Regions from separate parts of the Homo sapiens genome. Here regions 2 and 3 are each reported to be linked to region 1. The links are microRNA targets in miRTarBase. Many come from high-throughput screens and were not tested one by one. Region 1 holds a microRNA gene; each other region holds the end of a gene's coding sequence.

The links. Region 1 holds the annotated microRNA hsa-miR-4282 (UAAAAUUUGCAUCCAGGA, at 2,027-2,044, shown strand). A microRNA usually pairs through its seed, bases 2 to 8, with sites in the 3' UTR of a target mRNA and lowers its output. Matches are read on the target gene's strand: a 7mer-m8 pairs with bases 2 to 8, a 7mer-A1 pairs with bases 2 to 7 and ends in A, and an 8mer does both.
Region 2: miRTarBase lists SKP1 as a target of hsa-miR-4282. Seed matches in the 3' UTR shown: 7mer-m8 at 1,701-1,707 and 7mer-m8 at 2,750-2,756.
Region 3: miRTarBase lists SLC7A11 as a target of hsa-miR-4282. Seed matches in the 3' UTR shown: 7mer-m8 at 986-992, 7mer-m8 at 506-512 and 7mer-m8 at 36-42.

Annotation. Positions count from the first base shown.
Region 1 is chr6:72,966,475-72,969,740 of GRCh38, reverse strand. MIR4282 (microRNA 4282) reads left to right here and starts at 1,988; the gene lies at 1,988-2,054. All of the region lies in intron 1 of KCNQ5 (potassium voltage-gated channel subfamily Q member 5), which reads right to left. The region is part of intron 3 of LOC105377855 (a long non-coding RNA gene); the gene reads left to right.
Region 2 is chr5:134,155,037-134,158,302 of GRCh38, reverse strand. SKP1 (S-phase kinase associated protein 1) reads left to right here. Exons shown (of 6, transcript NM_170679.3): 6 at 535-3,266. The coding sequence ends at 570. Among named protein-coding and RNA genes, the nearest start is that of SKP1, 20 kb to the left of the region's middle.
Region 3 is chr4:138,169,181-138,172,446 of GRCh38, forward strand. It overlaps SLC7A11 (solute carrier family 7 member 11), which reads right to left. Exons shown (of 12, transcript NM_014331.4): 12 at 1-2,837. The coding sequence ends at 2,776. It overlaps SLC7A11-AS1 (SLC7A11 antisense RNA 1), which reads left to right. Exons shown (of 7, transcript NR_038380.1): 5 at 2,353-2,526. Among named protein-coding and RNA genes, the nearest start is that of LINC00616, 40 kb to the left of the region's middle.

The DNA of each region.
Region 1 (3,266 bases):
GGTACTGAATTCAACACAGGGATTTTCTTTGACCTTTAAGGTCTGATGTTTGAGAATTTGTTGACCAAAGAAATGGATTAACATATAGGGACTGCTATAAGTAAACAATCTGTCCAGTCGTATCTAGGAGAAAAATGACGGAATAGAATAATATAAAAGTAGAGGAGGGAAGATGAAGGGAATTCTGATACAAGTTGGGAATGTTACAAGAGTGAAAATACCATCCCAACACAATTGGAAAACTCTACCTAGGGGAGGAGGCACCACTAACTAATGACTGAGACAAACCATTAGGTTCAACCATATGAAATTGCCATTATTGTAGGTCAGAAACAACTGAATTTCAGCAAGTTTACATGGTCTAACCTTACATGTTATACCTGTATTGTGCTTACATTTTGCTATGTATATATGTGTATACATTTATAAATACCCAACACAAAGTTCATGCATATCTTCTTCCAAGATTCAAAAAATCTTAAGATGAAGGAAAGCTGACAATAATATTTATTATAACACATCTCCTTTGTCTAAAGGGTTATCAGTTCAATTACTTTCAAATTTGGTTGTAAACATATATTGTGTTTGGGCATAAATGCTTCTTAATTATTAAGTAATACCTGAATTTGCCACTTTTAAAATAAATATACTTTAAAAAATGAATACACTGAAATTGAGGAGCAACCAAACAGTTCTTACAGAAGCCAAACTGTACTTAGGAAACCCAAGTTGGCTATTTTCAGCTTATTCCTCAACTCCTTAGTTTCAGGTATAAAGTCATCACATACCAATTGGATGACTAGTCCAAAGGGAAGCTTAGTAAGAGATCACATTGTTTATTCTCATCCCTGAAGTCAGCCACACTTGAGAGATGAATAAACAACAGGTGCTGCCCAAGATTACAATGTAGGTTGACTTTGATGCTTCAATTATTTTTGGCCGAGATATTATATTTGTACATCTCTATGTTTGTAAATATTGCATATATGTATATATGGATAATTGTGGAAGTAAGAGCTATACACATCATTAGTTAATCTGATAAATAAACTTTAGTTAGTTTTAGGAGAATATCTCTGGATTATAAGAATAAGCCACTTCATAAAACATTTGTAAAACTTTGTAAAAACAAGTACATAAACAATATAGAAATGTATAACTTAGAAAGTCAAAGTCCCTAATAATCATTGTCTACACCTTTGCCTTCCTCTTTCAAATAATCAATATCATCAATTTGGGAGATATAATCTGAATTTCCCCCTCCTCATCACATGTTCTGTTTTTTTTTTCACTTATTTCTTTAAAAGTCTATCCTCCTTTGAGATTCTTTTCTTCACCCGTCTAGATCATAATGATATTTCTCTTCTCTACACTTTCAGTACTTTGAGTTTGCATGTTAATAATAAAATGTCTCACACGGTTCTCTAATTCAGTATTCCCCAGACTGTTTTCCATAGAACACCACTATCCCAAGAGATTTTTATAGATCTGTCTCAAGAAAAAGTTGCTCTGTCAAAAACACTTAGGGAGTTCTGGGTTCAATGACAATAACTGTATTTCTTTGTTGCAGAACTTCTGAGACACTGTGAGTGTGTGTGTGTTTGTATGTTTGTGTGTGTGTATGTAAGTTTCTATTCACATTTTATATAAATGAAAACATATCTTTGTCACATATATCAGATGTCCAATTTTGAGACTTGGTTGTGTTGGGGTCGCTAAGGAGAAGTGGCCCTGCGAATGAGGAAGAGACAGTGAGGGTCAAGAAGGAAGGTCAGAGTAAGCAGGGAAGAATCCAAAGAACATGGTATCCTAAAATCCAAAAGAGTTTTCAGAAGGAGAAAATGGGTCAGGTGCAGTGGCTTATGCCTGTAACCTCCACACGTTGGGAGGCCAAGGTATAGGGATCTCTTGAGGCCAGAAGTTTGAGACCTGCCTAGACAACATAGTGAGAACCTACTGAGACATCTTTAACTTCTTAGGTGTGAATGGTGAAGTTCCAGGGGAAGATTTTAGTATGCCACATTTCTAAAATTTGCATCCAGGAACATCATCCTATTCACCTTCTGACTGATATCTTAAGTGACCTTAATGGTTTTTAGAACCTTGTATGGAAAACTCTACATTCTTGAGAGCAGGGACTTTGTTCTTCATTCCTTTTTGAGACCCTTGTAGTGCATAGCATAGATCTGAAAACATCAAAGCACCCAACAAATATCCGTTGATTGCATCATATGGTTGAAGGAAATAAAAAGAAAAAAATGAAAAATATATTGAAAGATAACTAATATATGCCCAAACTTTTCACCATACATTTTCCTCACTGATTTATTTATCTTGAATTAAATAAAGGGATATTTTTTTGTCTTTAAGATGTACATCTTAAAATTACATAATACCATTATATTTCACTATACTGATCAAAAGTTATTGCATAGGAAGGGTGTACAGACTGATTATGAAATCCCAGTGAGAATATGAAAAATTTGCTGACTAAAATTTTTATAGTGCAAGAAATGTGTTTCTATCCTAAAGAGGGTTATAAAATGGGAGAAATAAAACCCTAAGAGTCATATCATTAAATTTATGGAAGTTCATTTCCTGTGTGTGAGGAGAGTCTAATGGAAAACTTTATAACCATGGACCTTCTCCTTTGTCACAGCTGAAGGGATCCAATGCTAAAATTCTGTTCCATGTAACAAAAAGTACAGTAGAAGAAAATATTGTATCTTGAGTATATTCCTGTCCTTCTATATCTTCCTCTGACTTCTGTAAGATATATTTTAAAAACTCAGTCCACATTCCTTAATTCCTCCAACTCCCTCCAGAAACAACAGGTCTTCAAGGTGTAATTGGGTAACTTTTATTGAAATCAGCTGTTGGTAGTCCCTGGCAACCATATGTGCCAGTTATTGAGTCACAGAGGAAGTGCTGGGTTCCTGAACACAGTCTGTATGGAGTAAATTCTCGAAGCATTTGGCCCTATCTCACAATGCCTCTCACTTTGCCCTGCTCATGATCCAGTCATGGATTTTAAATTGAACCCATGTTTCTGTTTCCATACTGAAAGTTAAGTTTTAGCATAAATATTTGAGGGTCACCACAAATTTAAGAGGATACCTTTCAAAATATGCTTTTCTTTTTTTTCTCTCTCTCTTTTTCTTTCTTTCTTTCTTTGATGGAGTTTCACTCTTGTCACCGAGGCTGAAGTGCAGTGTGGTGATCTTGCCTCACTGCAACCTCTGCCTCCCGGGTTCAAGAGATTCTCC
Region 2 (3,266 bases), not on the chromosome of region 1:
TGTCTTTATGAATCTGAACACTTAGATGATACTGCATTTTAAGCATAAGAACAATTAGTTTTCAATGAGAAGAGCTCTTGTTAATGTATTAACAGTTACTAGTTTTGGCACCTGCAACTTTCTGTATAGACCATACATATCTGACATCAGAAAAGCAGGCCCTAGAGAGAAGTATATACTAGGGTACTTTAGAGCAACTTAATGAGGGGAGGAAATGAAAGAATAGATCAGAATGATTTTGTTGACATGACTACAGACTGAAATAATGTGAATGAATTAACTGAATTTGCTCTGTCAACTTTAGTAAATTGCCCATTGCCTTTGCTTTGTTCATAATTTCAGCAGGGCAGAATAAAAACCATGGGAGGCAAAGAAAGGAAATCCGGAAATATAGTCTTAACCTGGTGTTGTTCTAATTTTCCATCTGTTCTTCTGACTCAACTCACTGGCTATCGATGAATCAGTAGGTAGTATTTATAAGTCTTAGGAAAGACTACTCAAGTTAAGGTACTTCCCTATATCCATCTCTTTTAGGTACGCAAAGAGAACCAGTGGTGTGAAGAGAAGTGAAATGTTGTGCCTGACACTGTAACACTGTAAGGATTGTTCCAAATACTAGTTGCACTGCTCTGTTTATAATTGTTAATATTAGACAAACAGTAGACAAATGCAGCAGCAAGTCAATTGTATTAGCAGAATATTGTCCTCATTGCATGTGTAGTTTGAGCACAGATCCCAAACCTTACGGCCAAGTTTCTTCTAGTATGATGGAAAGTTTCTTTTTTCTTTGCTCTGAATAAAACTGAACTGTGGGTTCTCTATAAGTGGCATTTTGGGCTTTCCCTCTTTTTTGTAAAGCAATGTCTGCCTAGTTTATTGTCCAGTTAACTTTAGTGACCTTTTAAAAGTTGGCATTGTAAATAAAACAACTTGCAAAAAAGTTTTCTGGAATAGAATTAACAAAATATTATCTTTATTCATGAGTTGGAAACTGGAAAAAGGCTTCTTGAAGTAAATGTTCTGAGTGGAGCTACTAGGATGTCTTCCAGCCTCCTGCAGTCAAGGAGTACCACTGTATTGATTAGCCTGTATGTAGCAGGGCTCCCTTCATTGCATCTGAGGACTTGTTTTCTTTTTCTTTATTTTTAATCCTCTTAGTTTTAAATATATTGCCTAGAGACTCAGTTACTACCCAGTTTGTGGTTTTTTGGGAGAAATGTAACTGGACAGTTAGCTTTTCAATTAAAAAGACACTTAACCCATGTGGGATGTCATCTTTTTATAATTAGTGTTCCCATGTGGAGAAAATTATTCACACTACTTGCATGTAAAGAATAATTTAACTTTTAACATTAAAATATGTGGTAAAACCCAGAAAGCATCCATCATGAATGCAAGATACTTTCAATAAAAAGTAAGTTATATAGTAGGTAGTTAAGTTTGCTTTTGTGGACTTAAATGTGTCTCTTCACTTAAATGGGTTGAATGTGTATATATTTGTTCAGCTTGAAAAGACTTAGTTTATATCCTAGCTCACTGGAGGCTGCTGACATAACCATAACTTCTGTCCCTTCTAATTGTCATTTATATGCCTAACTGGAGCTAGTACTTTAATTCTTAACACAAAATTACTCTGCCATTGTTTCCAGCTTCCCTCCTACAATAGAATGAAGTTTTTTTGATGGCTTGAGATGGCTCACAAATTTTGATTTTTTTTTCTTCCTTGTGCTCCCTTTTTTTCTCCTTGCTTTTCCAGTTAACATCTATATTCACATGTAATCTTGTTTTCTCTTCACATTCACTGAGTTGTTCAGGCTCAGATCATCCCTTGACAGTAGTTTGCCTTCATCTCACCTTTCATTTGTCCCAAATTCACCTTATTTAATAAAGTCCCATATGTTGTCTCACTTAATTCCAATTTGTTGTCTGTACCAGAGATAGGAAACTATAATGTGTGGGTCAAATCAGGCCCATAGCCTGTTTTTGTAGTCTTTGAGCTAAAAATGGTTTTTACGTTGTAAAGAGTTATTTAAAATTCTCTCTCTCTCTCTCTCTCTCTCTCAGGAGATAAGCTTGTTTTCTGTTTGTCCTGGTTTTAGTGGGGAAGGTAGCGGTGTATAGTCCTAGCTGAATTGTCTCATCTACCAATTCCTGCTATTATAAGATCAACTTCTGCAAAAACCTTATCCACCTCAAGTATCCTTAGCAGCTGGGCATGGTGGCTTATGCCTGTAATCTCAACATTTTGGGAGGACAAGACAGGAGGATCGTTTGAGCCCAGGAGTTCAAGACCAGCCTGGGCAACACAGAAAGTCCCTGTCTCTCCAAAAAAAAAAAAAAAAATTAGCAGTCATATGGTGCATGCCTATAATCCCAACTACTTGAGAGGCTGAGGTGGGAAGATGGCTTGAGCCTGAGAGGTCGAGGCTGCAGTGAGCTGGCATTGCACCACTGCACTCCAGTCTAGGCAATAGAGCGAGACCTTGTCTCAAAAACAAACCAGAAGTATCCTTAGCAGTATTATGACAAACAAATCTTCACTGAAGGTCCAGGATTACTGCCATATGCCATGTTTAACTTGTAAAGGAAGTATCACCTTCTAAGAAACTGGAGCTTGTTATTACCACTTGATCTGTATAATACTCAGCAGTAGTTAGAATTATATGAGTAAATAACGTCACTATCCGTATTTAAAGGATAATGAGATCTTTCAGAAAGATTGGATGGACAGACAATATAGTAGTAATTTAAATTTTTGTTTCCTGACTTTCTGTAGTCCCTAAACAAACAACAAAAAATCCTAGTAATCTTAAACTTTTACATTAATAGAGATCCAAGAGAAAATAAGCCATTTTTCACCATTGTGGACCCAAATAAATCATAGACATGGTATTAAGAAGCCCTTTTCAGTCTGGTTGCAGTATTATTTTCCTACCTTTCTTTTTCCTGTTCCCTGCTGTATGCCCACTATTCCTTTAATATATCTACTAGAACTTTTCTAGGCTTTCACCTGGAGTGAGTGGTCCTTTCTCATTATCACAGTAGCCAAACCTCAGTCTTCAAAACTCCACTCATTTCTGGCTACTCTCTTACTTCCCAACTATTCTTCTAAACTAATATTGTGGCATTAAGTCATACCTTGAGGCTGGAGTTTTAGTGTCTTCATGGCCTTGGGCAAGTTGGAAATAGGTACTACGGTTTTATAGATCTAGTGCAGTCTGCTTTATATTAGTTCCAGAACTTCATTGGAAGTCACTTGACAGCAG
Region 3 (3,266 bases), not on the chromosome of region 1:
ATGTGTGTGTGTGCATATCGTATAAAAATATGAGAAAAATTTTACTTATATAAAAACATATATATAAATAAGTGTTCAGGAGAGTTTTTGAGAATCTGCTTTACATACTGCAATTTTGAGTGAAAATTATGGATATTAATTTCCTGATTAAAGGAACTGTGTCTTCTCATGATGAGTCCTAAAAATAAGCCAAAATACTACTTAATCTCCATCACTTTTTTTCTTAATTACTGGCTGACTTTTTTTCTGCGTGAAATGGCATTACAATGGCAGGGAAATTTAATAATGCAAAAATCACTTTTGAAAATGAGAAAGAATAATTCTAGTTACCTTTTAAATTGATACTTTTAAAGAGAAATTCAAATCAAAAATAAATAAATTAAAGTCTGAGACCAATTTGCCACTGTGAATATAAGCACATTAACCCCAGGAAGAGCCAAGAACTACACAAACCTCTCTATGAGAATTTACCAGTCTTCTTTCATTTGGCAAGAAAAAGCTCAGGAAAATTTGCTTGTTTAAATTCTATGAGCCTAGTCTATGGGGAAAAAAAAAATAGGAATATGAAAGAAATTCTTACCTCCAGCAACATATCATAGGGAGAGATGTGGACAAATGAACAATATTTACTGGAAATAGGAATTATAAATCAAATTTTGAAAACCCTATGCTAAGGAAGGAAGGAGTTATTATAAATTCACTCAGAGACCCAAACGTTAGGTTCAGCTAAAGAAATGTCAGTCTTGGATATATATTAAATGTTTTCAAGAGCAAAATTGAAATTACTGAATTGGAAATGCTCCAAATTATAGGTCATCATTTCTACTTTGGACAATTTTTTATGAATTCTATGTTTGCCTTTAATAATTTTAATTGGTATAATTCTTTCAAAAATCCTTATTTTCAAATGGACAAAAATTAAAGGATGAAACATACTCTGGCCATGACTAACCATTTTACCTTAGATGTTTATAAATAACAGTTCAAAATTTCATCATTATATTACTCTCATTTGTAAGTTCCACTATATATATATATATATATATATAAAAAGTGTGTGTGTGTGTGTGTATATATATATATATATATATACACACACACACACACACACACATACACACACATATATATATATATATAATCTTTTTTTTTTGGAGATGGAGTCTGACTTTGTCACCCAGGCTGGAGTACAGTGGTGCAATCTTGGCTCACTGCAACCTCCGCCTCCCGGGTTCAAGCAATTCTCCTGCCTCAGCCTCCTCAATAGCTGAGATTACCAGCATGTGCCACCATGCCCAGCTAATTTTGTATTTTTAGTAGAGATGGGGTTTCTCCATGTTGGTCAGGCTGGTCTAGAACTCCCGACCTCAGGTGATCCACCCCCTCAGCCTCCCAAAGTGCTGGGATTACAGATGTAAGCCACCATGCCCGGCTCACAGTATTTTCTAATACTGGCAAAACAACATCTTCTGAACACAAACACTTATCCACAGATTCTCATTTCAATTTTCTTCTTATCAGTTGTCTCTTTTGCAAGTTGAATGATAATTAAGGTGTGGAAATTACTGACAAAGCCTAGATATAGAAGTGGAAATTTTCTAGAAACATCAGTTGTAAATCTTATTTACAGCGACATTTCTTTTGCAATTTTTATGTTAATATATGCCTTTTCCTAATTAATCTGGACAGTTTCATCTGAAGAGATATTTTAACAGAAGAATATAAAATGTATAAAGAAAATGCACAAACTGTCAAAATTCATCATCGTGTAAAAATAGCCATAAATTTAAAAAACTTCAGAATTACTAACATTGCATGTAGATATGATTACAGATATGGGACTATTATTTTGAACATCTTCTTTGTTGGTGATTTCTCTCATGTTGATAATGTAATTTGAAGGCTTAAAATGCATATGTTTAGATAGACTCATCAGGGGTAAGTTATTAGTGAAACAGGTGGTTGTTCTAATGAGGATTTAATACCAAACTAACTCTTGCTCTAAGATGTGTTATACACTTTCCTGATCAAACTGATGTGAAAAAAAAAAATGACAGATAACTAAAACTTCCTGATAATGAATGAAAAAACATCTGACATAATAAATTCTCAAGGATTTTTACTTAAACATAACTCCTGGATGTGTCTCATAAACAGTAGCCCCTAGAAACTCTTCTTTAATGTATTCAACAATCCCCACTGACCTTTGTTCAAAGTGCTCTGGGTATAATCCATTAAAGCATGAGTGTTTGTTATCTAAATTGGTATCTAAGGGGAAGCAATGCAATGTCAATGTAAAATAAATTTCTTTCTCTCCTCTTTGCCATAATCATGATGTATGCTTTTTTTCAGAATTGAAAACACTTTTCACAGTATAGACATCTATAGTGTGTAAAACCATCTTTACAAAACCCATATATACAGAAAAATCTCAGTCTTCAATTTGAAGGTTCTTTGCCGTGCTAACATATGTTGTAGAGAATGACCACATAGTAATTGTCTAGTCTTTTCTCCTAACCCCAATAGGTAGGTATCAGAGACTCAAGAATTGTGCGACTCATAGAATAACTGCATATTCACTTTCTATAACTACATAGAGTTATAACTAAATTTCTTAGAAATTAGTTCGAATATGCTAAAATATATGAATAAAAATAACTGACTCCTTTTGTTTATCACCAAAGTTGTAATTCTCTAGACTTTCAGAAAATGAAGTAAAAATCCCTATTTTGTGTCTCCCCTTGGGCAGATTGCCAAGATCTCAAGTCCATTAGTTCATAACTTATCTTCTTCTGGTACAACTTCCAGTATTATTTGTAATGTTCTGGTTATTTTCTCTACAAAGAAATAAAAATGAATTAAAAATGCATGGAAATCAGAAATGCATTAAAAATAGCAAAATATGAATTATTTTGGGTTGAATACCAAAAACACACAACTGTCTACTTCATAGAGCACTTTCAAGAATTATTTACTTCATTAGAATTCTATCATGCTCAATTAATTTATTTGTCACTTCTGTAACTTCCCATGATGGCTTCTCAGCAAGAATACATTAATATTTTGCATTCAAATAAGGATTTTTATTCATGGACCAGAAGGGTGAAAATATTTTGAAACAGTAGGACCAATATATAAATAAATGTTTAAAAATACACTTTATATCAGTTTAAAATTGGTTTATTCTTTTTGCACCTATGAGATTACAATCAGTTCCTCAGAAGAATCTGGAGGAGAATCAGAATGTAATTTTCATTCTCTAACTT